Linked DNA regions of Homo sapiens: region 2 is linked to region 1. The links come from fine-mapping of genetic effects on gene expression. A gene starts in region 1. The other region holds a variant in brackets. All regions are shown on one strand. Distances are between the middles of the regions.

Region 1 (5,401 bases):
TATGGCCATGATGACTGGCGTAGAAGTTAAAAACATGCACGCACATGCACACACAAACATAGACATGCACGCAAATCAGTGATTTTGAGAGCAATGCTTTGGCATAAGGCCTCCTAATATCTAATCTCTCTGTATCTGACACCTCCTTTCTATATTCTTTTGTTAATATTTGAATTAAAATATTCAGAACAAATTTTCATGAAATGTTTTACTTGTGCTACTCTGCACTATTTATTTCTTCTTTCCTTTTAAGTATTTAAAATATTAAGGATACAATATAAAGGCAAAAAATTATTTTTAAAATTTGTGCGCTAAAATTATAGAGTCTACAGAGGAGGCAATGTTATGTTGACTTGGTCGATATATTCACTTTAGGTAATAACATCTTATACTACTTGTAACAAAATAAGGTTAATTGATGAAATTGTTTCTACAAATTTTAATGCTTAATTAAAATGTGGCTTGGGGAATACTGTATTGTGTCTAACTGCCCAAAGAAGGAAAAATATATATCAGTGTGTAGGTCATTGAGTTGATATACGTATCTCCCATAGAAACCTAAAGGCGTGGGATATTTGTTATTTATGTCACTGTTTTTCCCCAAGAGACAGACACTTAATAAGCACTCAATTTATATTATGTGAATGAATACTGAAGCAGAAATAAGCAGTTTTATGTCCATGAGTCTTGTATTGTTTATGAGGAGGTTAGGGCTATTGACATATAAGCACGTTAAAAATATAGTGGAGGCCAGGTGCAGTGGCTCACGCCTGTAATCCCAGCACTTTGGGAGGCCAGGCAGGCGGATCAGGAGGTCAAGAGATTGAGACCATCCTGGCCAACATGGTGAAACTCCGTCCCTACTGAAAATACAAAAATTAGCCGGGCATGGTGGCGTGTGCCTGTAGCCCCAGTTACTCAGGAGGCTGAGGTAGGAGAATTGCTTAAACCCAGGAGGCGGAGGTTGCGGTGAGCTGAGATGGTACCACTGCACTCCAGCCTGGGCAACAAGAGTGAAACTCCGTCTCAAAAATAAATTAATAAATAAATATAATGTAATGGAAGGAGACAGGGATTGAAAGGAGAATCATGTTGAAACAATCAAGGGGTAGAAGAGTATAGCGGATATCTCATCAAGACAAGATGAAAACTAAAAATAAAATTATACATATTATAAAACATGAAAGAGGTAATTCATATGCATCTGTAAACATACTGATTCTTATAGATTATAATTGCTAATTAAAAAAGAGACTCAGGTTACATTTTTTAAAACTGTACTATTTTTGAAAGAAACTTTAATACAAAATTTGAAAGCAGAATAAATCGGGTATTCTTAGATAAGAAAACCAATGTAACAATGTCATATATAAAATTAGTAATTCAGTTAAAATAATAATTGTGAAATGATAATAACATTATAATAAACATTAACAGGATAATATAGTATTTGTGACTAGCCTGATCCCAAACACATAACCTAAACTTGAAATTCTAGTAGAAAATGACAAAGTATGGTTATGGTAAAGTATATTTAAATATATTTCTTTAAATAAATACGTAAACAAAAACTGGCAGTGATATAGATTTTTTCTTGAATTATTTGTTTTTGTCTTTTTTTATTAATACATAAATGTACAGATGTTCAGTGTACATGTGATACTTTGATGCTAGGAACATTTAAATTATTCTCTTCCAGCTATTTTGAAATGTACAATAGATTATTGTTAACTTTAGTCAGTCTACTGATCTATCAGATACTAGGTTTTATTCATTCTATATAACTGTATATTTGTACCAAAGGAGTTAAATGTAAATCTCTTGCAAAAAATAAGAGATTACCGATCATAAATACATAAAGAAGATGCATGAATATCAGTGATGCTTTGGGTAATGAGTGAGAAGTAACAAAGAATATCATAAATTTCATAAAACAACATGCAAAATTATCGAAAGCCATAAAAAACAAATGACATTCATATATTTAGAAAAATTTAGCAAGGGCATTAAACGATAAATGAATCAAATATAAAATAGTATTGGACATGGCCTCCAGAGAAAAATTGTTTAAATTGCTAGAGAGTATAGTAAATCAATTATTTTTCTTCAATGAAGTAAGGGTCCACTGTTCAATAGATTAGTAAAGAAAAAAAATACATGTGGCATCTATCTTAGAAAATACAATGATCTAGCTTGAAATACCAGGAAAATTTAAGATAAATCTTTTATAATGAAAAACTGCTTGGAAGAAAACTGTACAATTTATTCTTACAATGGATTATATTTATATATTGATGATTGCTAAACATTAATATTACTTCTTGGCAGGTGTATGTGAGACTCTGTCTTTCCAATTCTAGTATTTCCAATTGAAAGACACACATGTAAATATATTATTCTCACAGTTCAGCAAAAATTCTAATACTTTGGGTGAAAATGAAATTCTGTGTGGCCCTATGAACTTCAACAAAAGTCTTAGCCTCTAGGATTCTTGATTCTATTCTATGAAATATAATAATTCATTTCTAGATTCTGGAGTGTGTTAACAATTCTATTAAAATGCCTAATTAAAATTCTTGCAAGATGGGATAATTAATATTTATGTGGTAAATTTAAATGAGGGCCTTTGATGCCTAATACCATGAAACTGGTACCAGGTATTATGTGTCAGCAAGCTAAGAAAGACATGTGCAGGAATATGCATAAAAACTCAACGGAGCTGGAGAGTTACAGTGTCTAATACAAAAGCTAAATATTGAGCTTGAAAAAATTTTGTGAAGAATTACAAAGCTCCAAAGTATCTAATAAAATAAAATATGCCAAAACAATAAATAAACAAGAAATATCATTCTAAAAATGCTGGTGGTAATATACTTTTATTTTTACATATTAAGACATAGTGGTTATGAAATATCTAACATTTTGTTGTATTAGGTTCCATAAAGTTTTCCAATATTCAGATTAATTTGACATGAAGTGTATTTCATGGTTTCTACACAGTCATTAAAGAAGCATTATGTAGATGCCTCCATCATAGCTGAGGCTTACCCTTCTATATGGCATTCCCAAATCTCCGCGAAGATTAAAAAGACTGACTCTGGCCCCAGCTATGTACTTACTGTGGTGTCCTGTGAAAGACTTGTCATATGTAGTGATCTTCAGTATACCCAGAGCTGGTTTACAGCCACTGAAGATGGACTAGGATATTATGACCAGTGCAGAGAAACTCAGGGACCTGCTTAAGTGGAGGAAAAGTCTATTCCCTAGGGTTGTAAAACCCAATTAGCCTGAAGCAAGTCAAATCTAGGGCGTGGATGTAATTAGGAACAAGTCACATCATTTTGCTAAAAATCTTAATTTGGGTATGGTAGAGCTAGCTTTTATTAAATATAGGCATAAAAGTGTTAAATATCTAAATTTTATGATAATTTTCTCTTTGAGGAAGGCTTTGGGAAAGTTGTTTTTTTTTTTTTTAAGGAAAAGCACAATACAAAACCTCTTCCTACATTTTTAAGTTTTATACATACAGAAATTTCAGAGGGATTTTCTGTCAATTTGTATCTCTAGGACTTGTACAATATTGAGGAAAGCACTCCAAAAATAATTCAGGTAGTGAGATCTAGAGGTCAAATAATATTAAGTAATTGATGAACAACCATAGGATAGAGGCTTAAAATTCTTGCATCCTCTTGTATTCAGTTTAGGTAGTCTGAGCTTCATTACACAAAAGGAAGGGAAGATGAGGTGCTTAGCTCTCTGATAGGTTGTAGAATAGCCTGATTCTCTCTGGGTAACCCTAGAAATAGTTTGCAGAAGAATTCAATTTGTCAACTCCATCCTACCTATCCCCTCTTCTAACCTCACACAAACATATGCAAATAAGAAATCCATATGATTTTATAATATTCCATAGTCTAAGCTTATCAATGCATATGCATAGTGTACACAGCACGCCTTCCCCAACCATGTCACACAATTAACAGAAAACTTTCCCTTAATGCAAGCTAGATTCAGAACTACTTTATCTATTTCATAACAAAAATAGCAAACACTTACATAGTACTTCTTATATGACAGAAATCATTCCTTGTGTCTTACATATTTTAAAAATTATCATTCATAATAACCTCCATTGTGTTAGGCACCAGTATCTTTACATCTTATAGATAAAGGAACTGATGCACATAAATTTTAAGAAACTTGCCTGATATCACACAGTACATGTTATAGCTGAACTTGGAATTCTCACGCTCCCATTGATCCTATCTACACAATTCCGAGGCTTTTTCATATCTCTAAATGAATCAGACAGATGACTGTATTGTGAGAAATTATAAATTTTGTTGATTTTTTTCAGGGAAGCAGCTCCATGCCTTATTGATTTTTTCTATTATTTTTCTGTTTTCAGTTTTATTGATTTCACTCTTATTTTTGTTGTTTTCTTTTTTCTACTTGCTTTGGATTTATAGTCTGATTTTTTCTATACTCTTGAAGTGGTAGCTGAGCTTATTGATCTGAGACTTTTAATTCTCCTAATATAATTATTTAATTGTATGAATTTCCCTCTTGGTAATACTTTCGCAGTGTCCCACACATTTTGATATGTTGAATTGTCATTTTTCTTCAATATAATTTTTTTTTGAGACACAGTCTTACTCTGATGCCCCGGCTGACGTGCAGTGGCATGATCTCGGATCACTGCAAACTCTGCCTCCCGGGTTCAAGGGATTCTCCTGCCTCAGCCTCACAAGTAGCTGGGATTACAGGCATGGGCCACTATGCCCGGCTAATTTTTTTTTTTTTTTAATTTTTAGTAGCGGGTTTCACCATGTCAGTTAGGCTGGTCTCAAACTTCTGACCTCAGGTGATCCACCTGCCTCGGCCTCCCAAAGTGCTGGGATTATAGGCATGGGCCACTGTGACCGGCAATATATTTTTTAAAATATCCCTGACACTTCCTTTTTGACCCAAAGATTATTTAGAAATGTGCTGTTTAGTTTTCTACTGTTTGGAGATTTTCATTACATATATATGCTACCATTATATATATATATTATATATATACTACCATTATATATATATATTATATATATACTACCATTATATATACATATTATATATATAAAATGAATAATATATTTATTTATTTCCAGTTTTACTTCATTTTATGTGGAAAATACACTCTGTATGCTTGAAATTATTTTTAAAAGTTTGGGTTTCTTTCATTGTTCAGTACAATTTAGGGCTATGTTCTGTGAGCACTTGAAAAAAAAAATGTATTCTCCTCTTGTTGAGTAGCATGTTCTAGAAGTGTTTTTCAGATTAGGTTGATTGATTGTGTTATAAGTTCTTATATATCATTGCTAACTTTCTGTATAATTGTTTTTTTTTATTGTTAAGA
Region 2 (5,401 bases), 33 kb before region 1:
TTCTATTATTGTATAGAAATATGCTTGCCTATATCTCTTTGGTCCTTGTCACATCAGCCTCATGGAATCCCCTTCCTTCAGGACCTAAACTACATTTAATTTTCTCCCTCTTCTCCCTCCTCAAGGCAATTTGCAAATTCCTTGGTTTCAAAATTCTAAAGAGTGAAGTAATTCAGAACTTCCTTATTCAACTGCTCTCTCATTTAAATCCCTCCTATATAGTAGCAATTTTGTGCATTTTATATATTTGTTTTCTTTTTATCTGAACCATTTTCATCCAAACTCACCCTGGTGCCAGATGTTTTTAAATTCCCATTCATGACTGATATTACTTAGAAATAATTGCACAATATTGATGAGGAACCCTATGTAACAAACTTAATATCTTCTCTGGGGATTTTCCAAGCCAAGGTAAAAAAATTCTTTGGGGCTTTACAGATAGATGTCCCATAGGTCTCTGAAAAGGAGGTGAATTTACCTTTGTTGAAAATAGATCTATAATTAGAATATGTCTATGCCTGACAGAAAAAAATCTCAAATTTTATTATTGATGGGACATGTGAAGTGTCTAGCATCTATTGAATCATAAACCTGGAATTTTACCTGACTCCCTAGGGCAGTTCCATTCCAGTTTCATAACATTTTATATATTTATTCATGTGCCATGTGGGTATTTTAAAGCTTTCTCAAAAATATTGAGTAAACAATTTCAGAATGTTTTATGCTAGGGGCTCATTAAAATATATATTCTGCAATAAGGCTGAGTTATGTCTTTATTTGAAAGGTTAACACTGTTAAATGCACTGTCTCTCCATCACTGTTCCCCTTTACTTCAGTAGAAATATAGCATTCTTTTCTGTTGCAATCCCCGTTAGTACATCTTGATCAAGTTTAAGGAAACATCAAAGGCTGGGATTGAAATTATCCTCAAAGTAGACAGATGTCTGGAAAGGAATCAAAGAACATCGTGACCACAATTTAATACCTTGGGTTTGTAGAATGAATGCAGTCTATGGAGAGGAGAAAACGGTAAACAGTAATATGATGTAATGGCACATCTTTCTTCTAGCACAAGCAGCTACGATGGACAGAATCCCCACAAATGTAGGTCCTTTTTTCTTTTTCAGTGAGCCAGCTCGCTTACCGAAACACATAAAATAAGCTCTATGCCATAGAGCTTCAGCCCAGAGTGAGTCTTCAATTATTAACAATATGGTGGTGTGTAGCTTTATTCCAGAGCAGATAGCTAATAAATGAAAAACATAGATGTCAGCTTTCCTTTTAAAACTTGCTGAGTTACAATATTAATAGCATTTTTAAAATAATACTTAAATAAATAGTAAGCTATCAGATGCTAGGTAATGCTTCAAGTCCTAGACTCTGCTACAAAGTTCCTCAAGTCAGAAAATCTTTGAAAAATATCCTTACTTCGGTTTTTTTTTTTGCTTTTTGTTTGTTTTCTGAATTAAAACTGTATTAAGCAGGTATATCTGCTTATAAATGCTATGCATATATAATAATATACTTATGAATAGGTGTGAGAAATTAAAATGAAGTCTATTTATCTGGTTATAATACAGGCATACCTTAGACATAGCACAGATTTGGTTTCAGACCACTGCAATAACGTGAGTCACATGAATTTTGGGTTTCTCAGTGCACATAAAATGTATGTTTACACTATACCATGGTCTATTAAGTATACAATAGCATTATGCCTAAAAAATATATAGACCTTTTTAAAAATATGCTATTGCTAAAAAACGCTAGCGATTATCTGAGCCTTCCGTGAGCCATAATCTTTTTGCTGGTGGAGAGTCTTTGACTGCTGTTGACTACTTAGGGTGGTGGTTGCTGAAGTTTGGAGTGATTGTGGCAATTTCTTAAAATAGGACAATAAATGTTGCCCCATTGATTGACTTTTACTTTCATGAAAGATTTGCCTGTGGTATGTAATGCTATTTGATAGCATTTTACCCACAGTGAAGCAGCTTTCAGAGTTAATCCTCTCAAACCATACTACTGCTTTCTCAACTAAATCCAGGTAATATTCAAAATCCTTTGTTGTCATTTCAACGATGTTCACAACATCTTCACCAAGAGTAGATTCCATCTCAAGGAACCATTTTCTTTGCTCATCCACAAAAATCAACTCCACATTATTCATGTTTTATCATGAGATTGCAGCAATTCAGTCACATTATCAGGTTTCGTTTTCAATTCTATTTCTTTTGCTATTTACATCACATCTTTAGTGATTTCCTCCAGTAAAGTCTTGACTCCATCGAAGCCATTTATAAGGGTTAGAACTAACTTATTTCTAACCCCTATTAATGTTGATATTTTGACCTCATCCCATGAATTATAAATGTTGTTAATGGTATCTAATATGGTGAATCCTTTCTAGAAGGTTTTCAATTGACTTTACACATGCACATCAGAACAATTACCATCTATGGCAGCTATAGTCTTACAAAATGTATTTCTTAAATAAATAAGACTTGAAAGTCACAATTGCTTCTTGTTCCATGTGCTGCAGAATGGATGTTGTATGAGCAGCCTTGAAAATAAATTAATCTCCCTGTACATTTCCATTACAGCTCTTGAGTTGCCAGGCACATTGTCAATGAGCAGGAATATTTTGAAAGGAATCCATTTTTCTTGAGCAGTAGGTTTCAACAGTGGGCTTAAAATATTCAATAAACCATGCTCTAAACGTATGTACTGTCATCCAGGCTTTGATGTTCTAT[A/G]TAGAGAGCAAAGACAACATAGAGTTAGAATAATTATTAAGGGCCCTAGGATTTGGGGATTGGTAAATGAGCATTGGTTTCAACTTAAAGTCACCAGCTGCATTAGCCCCTAACAAGATAGTCAGCCTGTTCTTTGAAGTTTTGAAGACAGACATTGACTTATCCTCTCTATGATGACATGCTCTTCCAAAAGAAGGCTGTTTCAGCCAGACACGGTGGCTCATGCCTGTAATCCCAGCATTTTGGGAGGCCAAGGTGAGTGGATCACTTGCGGTCAGGAGTTTGAGACCAGTCTAGCCAACATGGTGAAACCCTGTCTCTATTAAAAACACAAAAAGTTAGCCAGACGTGGCAAGGGAGCCTGTAATCCTAGCTACTTGGGAGGCTGAGGCAGGAGAATCACTTGAACCGGGGAGGCAGAGGTTGCAGTGAGCCAAGATCGGGCCACTGCCCTCCAGCCTGGGTGACAATGGTGAAACTCTGTCTCAAAATAAATAAATAAATAAATAAATAAATATATATATATATATATATATATATATAGAGAGAGAGAGAGAGAGAGAGAGAGAGAGAGAGAGAAGGCTGTTTCATCTACATTGAAAATCTGTTGTTTAGTGAATCCATTTTTATCAATGATCGTGGGATCTTCTGGATAACTTGCTGCAGGTTCTACATCAACACTTGCACTTGCGTGTTATGGAGATGGCTTCTTTCCCTCATGAACCAACTTCTGCTAACTTAAACTTTTCTTCTGCAACATCCTTACATTTATCAGGCTTAAAAGAATTAAAATAGTTGATGCCTTGCTCTAGATTAGGTTTTGGCTTAAGGGAATATCGTGGCTGGTTTGGTCTAGACCACTTAAACTTTCTTTATATCAGCCATTAGGCTGTTTTGCTTTCTTGTCATTTATGTGTTCATTGCAGTATCCCTTTAATTTCCTTCAATAACTTTTCTTTTGCATTCACAACTTGGATAACTGTTTGGCATAAGAGGACTGGCTTTTGGTCTATCTCAGCTTTTGTCATGCCTTTCTTACTAAGTTTAATCATTTATATATATATTTTTTAATTTAAATTGAGAGGTATGTGACTCTTCCTTTCACTATACACTTAGTGACCATTGCAGGGTCATTTATTGGCCTAATTTCAATATTGTTGTGCCTGAAGGAATAGGGGGGCCCAAGAAGAGGGAGAGAGACAGGAGAGTGGCTGGCCAGTGTAGCAATGAGAATACATACAACATTTATAAATTAAGTTTGCCATCCTATGAGTGCAGTTTGTGGAATCTCAAATTGATCTATAGGTTCAATATTGTCTTCACAAAAATCCAAGACAGCTTTTTGTAGAAATTACACAATTAATTCTAAATTATCTATGGAAATGCAAAGGACAAAGGATATCCAAAGAATCTTTTTAAAGAAGGACCTAATTGACAGTGCTTACACTAATTTAAAAATGTATTATAATGCTATGACAATCAATAAAATATAGTAACAGTATAAAATTAGAAATATAAGTACCACCAAATCTAAAATAAAAGTTAAAAAAGAGAAATTGAAGATGACATAAATAAATGGAATGATATCTCGTGTTCATGGACTGGAAGAATTAATATTCTTAAAATGTCTATAAAGCCCAAAGCAATCTGCAGATTCAATGCAATCTCTATAAAAATTCCAATGTCATTCTTCACAGAAATGGAAAAAAATCTTAAAATTTCTATGGAACTATAAAAGACCTTAATTAGTCAAAGCAATATTGACCAAAAAGAATAAAGCTGGAGACACCACACTACAGAATTTCAAAATATATTGCAAAGCTATAGTAATCAGAACAGCATGGTACTGGCATAAAAACAGATACATTGACCAATGGAATGGGCTAGAGATCCCAGAAGCAAACCACACATTTAAAAAGAAAAGGACCTGTCTTCAATAAATGGTATTGGGAAAAATTGATATCCACATACAGAAAATATAAATGAACCCTTAGCTTGTCTCTTATACAAGAATCAACTCAAAATAAATTAAAGATTCAAATATAAAACTTGAAACATTAAATTAATAAAAGAAAACATAGGAGAAAAGCTCCATGACATTGGTTTGGGCAAAGATTTAATGACTGTGACCCCAAAAGCACCAGGCAACAAAAGCAAAAATAAACAATTGAGATTGGATTATATTAAAATGCTTCTGTATAGCCAAAAATACCAATAGAGAGATAACTTCTCAGATTGAAAAAAAATTTGCAAATCATATGCTGGATAAGGACTAATATCCAAAATAAACAAGGAATTCAAACTACTCAATTGCCAAAAAAAAAACCCTATAAAAAGTAGAGAAAGGACTTGAATAAAAATGTCTCAAAAGAAGACATACAAGTGGCCAAAAAGTATGTGAGGAAATGCTCAACATCACTAATCTTTAGAGAACTGCAAATTAAAACCATAATAAGACATTACCTCACACCTGTTACATTGGCTATTATCAAAAGGATGAAAGATAAGAGCTGTTGATGAAAATGTTGAGAAAAGTGAACCATTATACACTCTTGTTGGGAATTTAAATTAGTATAGTTCTTTTAGAAAACAGTATAGAGGTTCCTCAAAAAATCAAACACGGAATTACCATATGATCCAGCAGTCTCACT

What was found.
Region 2: its variant is fine-mapped to the expression of OR56B2 in blood mononuclear cells (TOPMed, PIP 0.99).

The regions. Positions count from the first base shown.
Region 1 is chr11:5,758,958-5,764,358 of GRCh38, reverse strand. OR56B2 (olfactory receptor family 56 subfamily B member 2) reads right to left here and starts at 3,206. Exons shown (of 2, transcript NM_001396057.1): 1 at 3,120-3,206. The coding sequence starts at 3,120.
Region 2 is chr11:5,792,319-5,797,719 of GRCh38, reverse strand. No RefSeq gene overlaps it. Among named protein-coding and RNA genes, the nearest start is that of OR52N1, 3.8 kb to the right of the region's middle. The variant A/G (reference allele first, on the strand shown) is at 2,751.